3 linked regions of the Homo sapiens genome follow. The protein of the gene in region 2 purifies or fractionates together with the protein of the main gene of each other region. This does not show direct contact. Each region holds a gene or a part of one and is shown on either strand. Other genes may lie near its edges.

Region 1 (3,652 bases), on a different chromosome or scaffold from region 2:
GTTGCTTAATCAGACCCTGCAGGCAACAGAGAGTATGAAAAATAGTCTGGGAACACCTACACCTGTCGCCCAGGCTGGAGTGCAGTGGCATGATCTTGGCTCACTGCAACCTCTGCCCCCCCCAGGTTAAAGCTATTCTCCAGCTTCAGCCACCCGAGTAGCTGGGATTACAGGTGTGCACCACCATGCCCAGCTAATTTTTGATTCTTTAGTAGAGATGGGGTTTCACCACGTTGCCCAGGCTGGTCTCAAACTTTGGAGCTCAAAGTGATCCGCCTGCCTCGGCTTCCCAAAGTGTAGGGATTACAGGCATGAGCTGCTGTGCCCAGCCTGTTTCTGCATTAATTTAAATCTTTTTTTTCCATAGCTTTTCTTAAATCCCATGTCCTCTGTCAAGCCTTTTTTGAGTATCCGTCCTCGGGTCACTACCTGCTACCTGTAGACTGTTCATTTGGGTGGCTTTGCTGGGGTTGCCTGTGAAGCCATACAGAGGCATGAGCCTCCTAGTGCCAGCCTAGCACATGCCATGATTTTGGTTAGCAACTTTAGCAACTTACCTATTGCTTAGCAGCTTACCTATTGCTGTTCACAAACCACCATGCCAAGCACAGGGCCCTACATGTAGTGGGAATTTGATTTTCCTTACGTCAGCACACATGATCATCGTGATTAGGATGGAGGGAAAAGTGAGTATTAGACATGACGGGTTTTGCTCAACTGGAGTTATTTAAGAGATTGTGATTCAGCTAACAGTAGGAGAACTAGACAGAAAGCTGGCTTTTAGGAAGACTGGTCAGCTTTCATTAGAGATTTTGGTGAGTTGGGCACAGGAGAAAGTTTTTTTTTGTTTTTGTTTTTGTTTTGAGACAGCCTCTTGCTCTGACACCCAGGCTGGAGTGCAGTGGCGCGATCTTGGCTTACTGCAAGCTCTGCCTCCCGGGTTCACGCCATTCTGCCTCAGCCTCCCAAGTAGCTGGGACTACAGGCGCCCGCCACCACGCCCTGCTAATTTTTTGTATTTTTAGTAGAGCTGGGGTTTCACCGTGTTAGCCAGGATGGTCTCGATCTCCTGACCTCGTGATCCGCCCGCCTTGGCCTCCCAAAGTGCTGGGATTACAGGCTTGAGCCACCGCACCTGGCCAGGAGCACGTTTTAGAAGGAGATGTGTCAGTTGCCTATTGAGATTTTTTTTTTTTTTTAGTCCAGTGGGAAATCCTGGTAAGTAGTTGGAAATGTAGGGAAAAAGTCTATGGATAATGTGTATTTTGTAATGTGAATATTTTCTTTCTTTTTTGAATAGTGTCCCGAGCAAGAGAAGCAGTCCTGGATGCCCACTTTCTTGTTTTGGCTTCAGATTTGGGCAAAGAGAAAGCAAAGCAGCTGCGCTCAGACCTGAGCTCCTTTGACATGTTAAGATATGTTGAAACTCTAGTAAGTTCAAAGCTACAGACTCTGAATAAAAAATGTTCTGTTATATATTATAATTATTTACTGTGCTCATATCCATATGCAGATGATTTCACTTCATTCTTCTTTTTTGGTCTCAGATTCCTCTGTAGAGATCTTACCAATTTAAACAGACGAAAGTAGAACCATGTGGTGGAATCTTGGGTGGGGGCTTGGAGTAAAAATCTCGTAGCATTCTGTCTTAAGATGCTGGGTGCTATGGTCATTTGCCAATGGCCATTTTTCCTCTGTTCACTGGTGTTCTAGATCATTCTCAGTGACCTCAGACCTTTGTCCTGGGCTGGACAAAAGCCCACTCTGCGATGGCAGAGCTCAGCTGGAATTGAGTTAGGCCTGGCGAGAGGGCATGTTTTGGTCTGTCTTTGAGAATATTTCAAAACCATGTGAATATGATTGGGTTTTGCTTTTTTTTTTTTTTTTTTTTTTCCTTTGAGACAGAGTCTCGCTCTGTCGCCCAGGCTGGAGTGCAGTGGCGTGATCTCGGCTCACTGCAAGCTCTGCCTCCTGGGTTCACGCCATTCTCCTGTCTCAGCCTCCCAAGTAGCTGGGACTACAGGCGCCTGCCACCACGCCCGGCTAATTTTTTGTATTTTTAGTAGAGACGGGGTTTCATCATGTTAGCCAGGATGGTCTGGATCTCCTGATCTCGTGATCTGCCCGCCTTGGCTTCCCAAAGTGCTGGGATTACAGCCGTGAGCCACCTAGCCCAGCCAGGTTTTGCTTTTTTGGTTTTATGTTTTATTCACCTTTCTTTGTCTCTTGACAAGTTTGAATAGTGGTTACCTGCAATTCTAAAACTGTTCCTTGATGAATTTACCAAAAAAGAAAAAGCACACAGAGACTGACCTTGTATCTCACTTTGTTGTCTTTTTAAAAAATTCTATTCTGGCTGGGGGCAGTGGCTCACGCCTGTAATCCCAGCACTTTGGGAGGCTGAGGCGGGTGGATCACCTGAGGTCAGAAGTTTCAGACCAGCCTGGCCACCATGGTGAAAGCCCGTCTCTACTAAAAATAGAAAAATTAGCTGGGTGTGGTGGCAGGCGCCTGTAATCCCAGCTACTCGGGAGGCTAAGGCAGGATAATCCCTTGAACCCAGGAGGCAGAAGTTGCAGTGAGCCGAGATCGCGCCACTGCACTCCAGCCTGGGCTACAGAGTGAGACTGCACCTCAAAATCAATCAATCAATCAGTCAATCTGTCAATCTGAGCCAACCTCTGTCCTAGCACAGATAGCTGCACCTCAGTATGAATATTGCATTTCTAACTGGATGTTTATGTTAAATGGTTATTAAAATAATTTAGTACTATGAGATCTGATCAGATAATTTTTTTGTAAAGGCATGAGGCACCAGATTATTTCCAGTTTGTTTTTCAAACCTTTTCCTTTTTTTTTTTTTTTTTTAACTTTTTTTTATTGTGAAACATAATGCACTTAGGAAAGTGCACTGTAATATAGAGGTCAATAAAGTAACCATGTATTGGGTATTTCTTTAAAAATTACTTTATCAGGTTAAGCTCTATTTTTTTATTTTTTGAGACAGAGTCTTGCTCTTGTTGCCCAGGCTGGAGTGTTGCCCATGCTGGAGTGTTGCCCAGGCTGGAGTGCAGTGGCACGATCTCAGCTCACCGCAACCTCCACCTCCTGGGTTCAAGCGATTCTCCTGCCTCAGCCTCCCAAGAAGCTGGCATTACAGGTGCCTGTCCCCACGCCTGGCTAATTTTTAGTAGAGGTGGGGTTTCGCCATGTTGGCCAGGCTGGCCTCGAACTCCTGACTTCGTGATCCACCCGCCTGGACTTCCCAAAGTGCTGGGATTACAGGCATGAGCCACCGTGCCCGGCCAAGCTCTGTACTTTAAATAACATATCAAAATAAATTCTGGAAGTCTTAAAGCATTAAATATAAAACCTTAAATTAATAGTTGTCCAGTCTCTGGGTGGAGAAGACTTTCGTATGTATAGCATCAAATATAGACACTATAAGGAAAGATTGGTGGATTTCTCTGTCAGTTAAACAGACCAAAACTGCCACGTCTGCCTACAAGGGTGCAGTGGTAGTTCGGGCGGCAAGGGAATGGAGAAGAGCTGGCCATAGCGCTCTGACCAGGCTCTTGTAGCCTTTCTTTTCTTTAAAGTCTGATTGCCTTTAATAGGGTTAAGCTCCCTGAGGGTTTTGTGATTATTGTTT
Region 2 (3,652 bases):
TCCCAGGTTCACGCCATTCTCCTGCCTCAGCCTCCCGAGTAGCTGGGACTACAGCCGCCTGCCACCATGCCCAGCTAATTTTTTGTATTTTTAGTAGAGACAGGGTTTCACCGTGTTAGCCAGGATGGTCTCAATCTCCTGACCTTGTGATCACCCGCCTCGGCCTCCCAAAGTGCTGGGATTACAGGCATGAGCCACTGAGCCCGGCCGAGATGATCTCTTAAAGACAAAAATTCAGTCTAGTACAGTGCCTGTGGTTTAGTACAAGAGATGGCAGTATTTGGTAATCTTTCACAAACATTTGTTGCAGTTTACAATTTTACTTGGGAAATCCCATTAGTATCGATCACTATCATTTGCTAAAGACTGGAGATTGATTTACTCTTAAGGGGTGCTATGCCTTACTCACCTAAGGGGAACCATACACAGATGGACTCCTGTGCCTGACTAGATTTTATTTCTGACTAGGATTGAGTATCTAAACTATCTATTCTAAGTAGTTATTCTAAATAGTTTGGAATAGTTGAGATACTCAATCCTAGTCAGAAAAAAATAACTAGAGTAACTAGTTATTCTGAATAACTCATATTTTGTTTCTTCCACTTCTCTCTTCATCATGTTCATGTTGTCTTCTGTCTGCGTAAATGTATGGAGTATATTTATAATGGTTATTTAAACTTTTTTTTCTTGCTAGTTTTAACATTGATGTCATTTCTGGGTCTGTTTCTATTGATTGATTTGTCTTCTAGTTATGGGTTATATTTTCTATATTTTCTTTACTTCCTGGGTAAATTTTGGTCGGATGTTAGATTAAGAATTTTATGTTGTTGGACCCGGGATTTCGTTGTATTTTTAAAAATATTTTGGACTTTGTTGTGGGAGGCAGTTAAGTTACTTGGAGTCAGTTTGACTGTTTCAAGGTGTGCTTTTTTTTTTTGCTTTGTTAGGATAGGTTCAGATCAACCTTTCTGCTAGGACTTATTTGAGTTACTGCTAAGGCAGTTTTTTTCTGTGGACGTTGCTGCTCAATGTCTTATGTCTTTCCACTTTGGCTGGAGGCAACATGAACTGGTTATTGCTCTGTTATTCCTTTTAGGTGGTTCTTTCCACGGCATTGGGTAGTTTCTTCATGCACTTGTAGATTACTACTCAGCCAAAGTTGTGGGGTTATTTTTTTTTTGATACAGTATCTTGATCTGTCACCCAGGCTGGAGTGCAGTGGCACAATCACGGCTCACTGCAGCCCTGACCTCCCAGGCTCAAGCAGTCCTCCCACCTCAGCCTCCCAAGTAGCTGGGACTACAGGCATGCACTACCATGCTTGTCTTTTTTTGTTGTTTTTTTTTTGTAGGGATGGGGCTTTGCCATGTTGCCCAGGCTGGTCTCGAGCTCCGTGGCTCAAGCAATTCTCCCACCTCAGCCTCCCAATGTGCTGGGATTACAGGTTTGAGCCACTGTACCTAGCCTCAGGAAAGTCTTAAGGGGACCCCATGTAGATGACCTGAGCTCTCTTTCTGAACAGCTGCCTCTTTGCTGTTTTGCTTTCAAATTCTAGCTGCCTTGGCATCCCTGATCTCTGAACTCAGTCCCCTCAAATCAGCAAAACCACTTGGTACTGTTTGGATTCCCATGAACTATACTGCAGCCCTTTCTAGTCAGTGAGTTGGGAAAACTGTAGAACTTTGTTTCTCTGGAAAGAAAAGTTCCTTTTGTATTGATATATTTGCTTTATAACTGAAGAATACTTGGAAAATATTACACAGGAATGTTAGTTTTGTCAGCCATTCTTGTAAGTAGATTGGCTGTTATTTTCATGCAGTACACACAGCCTTCTACCTTGATCTTTCCTCAGTGAGGAGTAAAGAGATTTTGGAGAGTTCTCCTGGTGATAATAAAACTATTTCTGATAACCCGTGTGTTTCTTTGTTATGGAAGAAAAATGCTCACTTGATTGCTTTTTTTTCTTTTTTCTTTTTTAATTATTATTATTATTTTTTTTTGAGACAGAGTCTTGCTCTGTCGCCCAGGCTGGAGTGCAGTGGCGCGATCTCGGCTCACTGCAAGCTCCGCCTCCTGGGTTCACGCCATTCTCCTGCCTCAGCCTCCCGAGTAGCTGGGACGACAGGCGCAGGCCACCACGCCCAGCTAATTTTCTGTATTTTTTTTTAGTAGAGATGGGGTTTCACCGTGTTAGCCAGGATGGTCTTGATCTCCTGATCTCGTGATCCACCCGCCTCGGCCTCCCAAAGTGCTGGGATCACAGGTGTGAGCCACCGTGCCCAGCCTCTTTTTAAAAATTATTTTCTTTCCCACTCATTCTTGCTGTCATCTTTTTTTTTTTTTTTTAAGAAACAAGTTCTGGCTCTGTCACCTAGGCTGGAGTGCAATGGCACATCTCAAACTCCTGAGCTCAAGTGATCCTCCTGTCTCAGCCTCCTGAGTATCTAGGACTATAGGCATGTGCCACCATGCCTGGCTAATTTTTAAAAATTATTTTTTGTACAGATGGGGTCTCACTGTGTTGCCCAGACTGGTCTCAAACTCCTAGCCTCAAGTGATGCTCCCACCTCAGCTTCCCAAAGTGCTGAGATTACAGACGTGAGACACTGCCCAACCCCTCTCTTTGTTGATAAATATGAATCCTAATCTTTTTTCCAATTGTTAATTGTTCTGCTGTCACTTGAGATAGCTTCAAAAATGAAAGGCTCTTGAGGCCTAAATAGATTAGATGGAAAAGTTCACCTCTAGATAGCTGCTACTGAGATTGTCCTTAGTACCTATCCCACTGGACTCTGACTTAGTTATAGCTATTCTCTCCTTACCTTTGGATATTCACCCAAAACTGGATCTTCTGGGAGGCCAGGAGAGTCTGCTTGGTCCTGATTTTGTGTGGTTAGTGTCTGGGTTATAGAATAACCCTTCTAAGGTTTCCTGGTCCTGTTTGTAACTACCTTAGCTTACTTTTTCCCCAGTATCCCTTGAAGATATTGTCTATGTTTTGCTTTCTTTTGTTTTTATCAACAGGAGAGGAAGGCAAGCCTGAGATTAATCAGCAGTTAAGCCTAGAGTCTATGGAACTTGACGAGCTTGCCTTAGAAAAGTACCCCATTGCTGCACCCCTTGTCCCTTACCCAGAAAAATCCTCTGAGGATGGAGTTGGAAACCCTGAAGCGAAAATATTAAGTGGAACTCCCACTTACAAGAGAAGGGTCATCAGCCTTTTAGTTACCATTGAAAACCACACCCCATTAGTAGAACTCTCTGAATATTTAGGAACCAACACACTTTCTGAAATTCTTGATTCTCCCTGGGAAGGAGCCAAAAATGTGTACAAATGTCCTGAGTGTGACCAAAACTTCAGCGATCATTCATACCTAGTTTTGCATCAGAAAATTCATTCAGGAGAGAAAAAACATAAATGTGGTGACTGTGGAAAGATCTTCAATCATAGAGCCAACCTGAGGACACACAGGAGAATCCATACTGGTGAGAAACCTTATAAGTGTGCCAAGTGCAGTGCCAGCTTTCGCCAGCACTCTCATCTATCCCGACACATGAATAGCCACGTAAAGGAGAAGCCCTATACATGTAGCATATGTGGTAGAGGTTTTATGTGGCTCCCAGGATTGGCACAGCATCAGAAAAGCCACAG
Region 3 (3,652 bases), on a different chromosome or scaffold from region 2:
TAAACTGAATGCATATTCTGTTTCACATTTGAAAGTGATCTTAACGGAGTCATCACAGCTAAGCACTATACGAGAGCAAGAAGATTTTTTCACACGGGCAGACGGTGGTCGATCCTTGGGCTTCACCACGGGGTCGTCAGGAGGCTTTTGCTGAAGCAAAAGGCCGGGCTGATGCCGAAATGGCATGACTTTCCCCACTGGGGTTGCTGCTTCAGGGCTTTTTGTCCCATTCCTGGGAAACAGAGGGCTTAGTATCTCTCTCTCCTGTAGATGTTTCTTTGAATGTTCTGTAAGGAGCAGGGCATATGAATGTTCCACAGAAACAGAAGAGCTTTGGCTTGCATCTGAAGATTCTAGCATTTCCTCAGTAAGTGCTGACTGGGCTTTAGCAGGGGCCTGACTACAAGGAACCAAGCTTTCTTCATCTTGGCTAACTGTTAAGTCTGATCCAGAATTACTCTTCCTATCAGAAGATGGGTTAGGTAGTAATTCACCTTTTTGAGTTTTAACTCCTCTATGATATTCATGGTCAGATGTACCTCGCAAAGAATTTTCTTTAGAGAGCAAAACATCATTTTGTGGCAATTCAGAGGAACAGTGAAGATTTCTAGCCTCAGATACTGGTGTGGAAGAAGTAGCAGAGCTTAATGCTAGATCGGCTAACATATTTAGGGCCTGGGAGTCATAGTTGACGATGGAGTTTTCAGGAAGATCATTGTGAGCCGCTGTGGTATTTTCTGGTTGAACACTATTTATGCTAATCCCATCTTCTTGACAACCTCTTGAAATTTCTGATTGAAGCTTTGAAGCAGTTTCTCCTTTGACTTCAGTATAAAAGAAAAAAAAAAGAGAGATGTTTGCTTGTCATAGAATTAACTCTCTGCCATATTACTATGATGGTTAATTCAACATGTCTGAGAAAAACTTATGTAACATATATTGCATATTAAAATTTTCTATTAGATTAAGGTCTCTTCCAACCCTCAGATAAAACTTATGTTATACATATTGCATATTAAAATTTTCTATTGGATTAAGGTCTCTTTCAACCCTCAGATTATAATGTGTTAAACCAGAGGGACAAGTCTTAAGGAATGTGTACATTAATTTAGAAAGAAATTATCCTTCAAAAACATATGAACTGATCTACACAGAAGACATACAGCTCAGCTCAAAAAATGTACAAACAAAAAAACCCAAAAAAGATGAGAGTCCTGCCCTTGGGAGCTTACAATCTAATAAGGACAGGAATGTAGAAGTTTCAAGTGTGTATGAGTTTGCTAACATACTTTCTCAGGAACCATTTCCCTGAACAAGCGATTTATTAGAGAAACTACCTAAGTTCAAATGATTTTAACTATATTGATCTTTAATTACATGATGTGATAGAAATAAAAAATTAGAAAAGTCCTAAGAGTATTCAGAATCATCAATTAATTCCATTACCTTTTAAAATTTTACTTTCATTACCAAAAACATTGACCTTTTACATTATCCAAGAAAGAGCAAATCTACTGACAATGTTCCCTTTTACAGATAATCAAATCTATCCATATGCCCTTAATCAGAACATTTACATTTGCCAGTGGTTTCCCTTGGTATTTTCAACGTATTCATTATTCCTTCCTAAATGCTGTTATTATGAAGGATAAACTTCACAACTCTGCTAGGCAATGATTCCCTGCTGCAGGTAGACAGATGACCAGAAAAGCCAACTATGTTCCTCTTTATCATAGTAGCAGGTCCAAAATGAATTAACAACCTGCCAGCCAAGGCCAATGAGTAACACATTTAAAGAGAAGACAGCTCCAGCCTATGATGTCATCAATTAGAACGACAAGGGCATGCACATACATGGGGAAAGGGTTAAACTGATCAACGACTGCCCAGTTTTTATTTAAAACAGCAAACTCAAAGGGGACAGGTGGATGAAAAGGACCCAAAGCAGATAATTGTCTTGTTAGTCCCACAGGTATACTGGAAACATAAAATTAATTTTGTGATCTGATGCTAATTTCATTCTTTGTTAATATTATGGCCTCCATCTACTTATCCCTTACACAAAATATTACTTACCAGTAAGGCCTAATATAAAAGATACTGTATTAAAATAAAGAAAAATGGTAGTTTAACATATTATAGTCTCACATAAATCACCCAGTTATTAACGTGTTACAGGTTCCCAATTAAAAAAACACCACCCATAATTTCTATTTAAGACATACATAAGACAATGCCAAAGGAACTACATTAAAAAAAAGTTCAGTGAATAAAAAGGACAGAAAATCATGTTTCATTAACAAAAGGACTGTCTGACTTCAAAATTATCATTTGATTCTAATTTAAATCAGTAATTTGCAAACTGAGGTCAATGTGGCTATGTTTCATCTGCCTTCTTAAACGTTGATATTTTAAGTATAAGAAGTAAAATGATTAACATAGGTGCTTAAGAAAAAAATTCAGAGATTTAAATGTAGTCATTCAAAAATGTTAACTTGGAATGTGGCTGCACAATACCTACAGACATTTGCAATACAAATCAGCCTGTATTTGAACACACATTTTGAAACTTTAAATTTTCTGGGCTCACTTTTCTGCCAGTATGCAATTATATACCTCCTCGCATTAATCAATTTGTCAATAAACATCTGAAGCCAATTCAGTACAAAGAATGCAAATGACACTGCTAGGAACACAAGATGTTACCTATTCTCATGTTTACAAATTGGAAAGATTGGACCAAGACATGTCAGATGAATTGAAAACAGTATGAATTAAATTATAGAATGTTCTCAAATATCCCAAAGAAGTGAGAGATTAGTTACAGTCACAACATGAGAAAACGCCTCCCTGTGGGGATAAATCTAGCTGCAGGCCCCTGAAGGGCAGAGGTTGCCTGGGGGAGGCACAGAGGGCCGCAGGGGAAGGAGCACGGTGGCAACAGCAGAGGCACAACGCAGAGAGGGGAGGTACAGCCACACCATAAACTCCCGAGAGGGACAAGCAGAAGAGCTCAAATCTGGTATGGAAGCCAAAACTGCAGCATATGGGTTTTTGAATGACATGATGAGCTTTTAAAAAAATCTTCAGTCATAAAACAATCTGAAAAAACTTAAAGAATCTCAGGGTATGCTTAAGTTGAAAAAAAAAACAAAAAAACTAAAAAAAACAAACCTGGCTGGGCGTGGTGGCTCACACCTGTAATCCCAGCACTTTGGGAGGCCGAGGCAGGCAGAGCATGAGGTCAAGAGGTCAAGAAGTTGAGACTATCCTGGCCAAAATGGTTAAACCCCATCTCTACTAAAAATACAAAAATTAGCCAGGCGTGGTGGCATGCACCTGTAGTCCTAGCTACTCGGGAGACTGAGGCAGGAAAACTGCTTGAACCTGGGAGGCAGAGGTTGCAGTGAGCCGAGATCGTGCTACTGCACTCCAGCCTGGTGACAGAGTGAGATTCTATCTCAAAACAAAACAAAACAAAACAACAATCCAATTTCTTTCTCTGAATTCTCACTCTCTGTGAGATAGTAACATCTAGTAATAGATGAGGGAGAAAGTAGAATCAGGAAAACCAGACAGAAAACTCATAGAAAGATAGGAGAGAATGAAGTCTCTCCGTTAAACAAAACAAAAAAAATACACACACACCACA

The links.
Region 1: the proteins of ZNF597 (region 2) and NSMCE4A purify together in Homo sapiens (affinity purification with mass spectrometry; 4 studies listed by BioGRID and IntAct, with this or other methods). This does not show direct contact.
Region 3: the proteins of ZNF597 (region 2) and TASOR2 purify together in Homo sapiens (affinity purification with mass spectrometry; 4 studies listed by BioGRID and IntAct, with this or other methods). This does not show direct contact.

The regions. Positions count from the first base shown.
Region 1 is NC_000010.11:121,968,718-121,972,369, reverse strand, and holds part of NSMCE4A (non-structural maintenance of chromosomes element 4 homolog A), read left to right. Parts: intron 1-1,300; coding exon 1,301-1,431; intron 1,432-3,652. UniProt on the Homo sapiens protein: Component of the SMC5-SMC6 complex, a complex involved in DNA double-strand breaks by homologous recombination. The complex may promote sister chromatid homologous recombination by recruiting the SMC1-SMC3 cohesin complex to double-strand breaks.
Region 2 is NC_000016.10:3,436,911-3,440,562, reverse strand, and holds part of ZNF597 (zinc finger protein 597), read left to right. Parts: intron 1-3,024; coding exon 3,025-3,652. UniProt on the Homo sapiens protein: May be involved in transcriptional regulation.
Region 3 is NC_000010.11:5,736,790-5,740,441, reverse strand, and holds part of TASOR2 (protein TASOR 2), read right to left. Parts: intron 825-3,652; coding exon 1-824.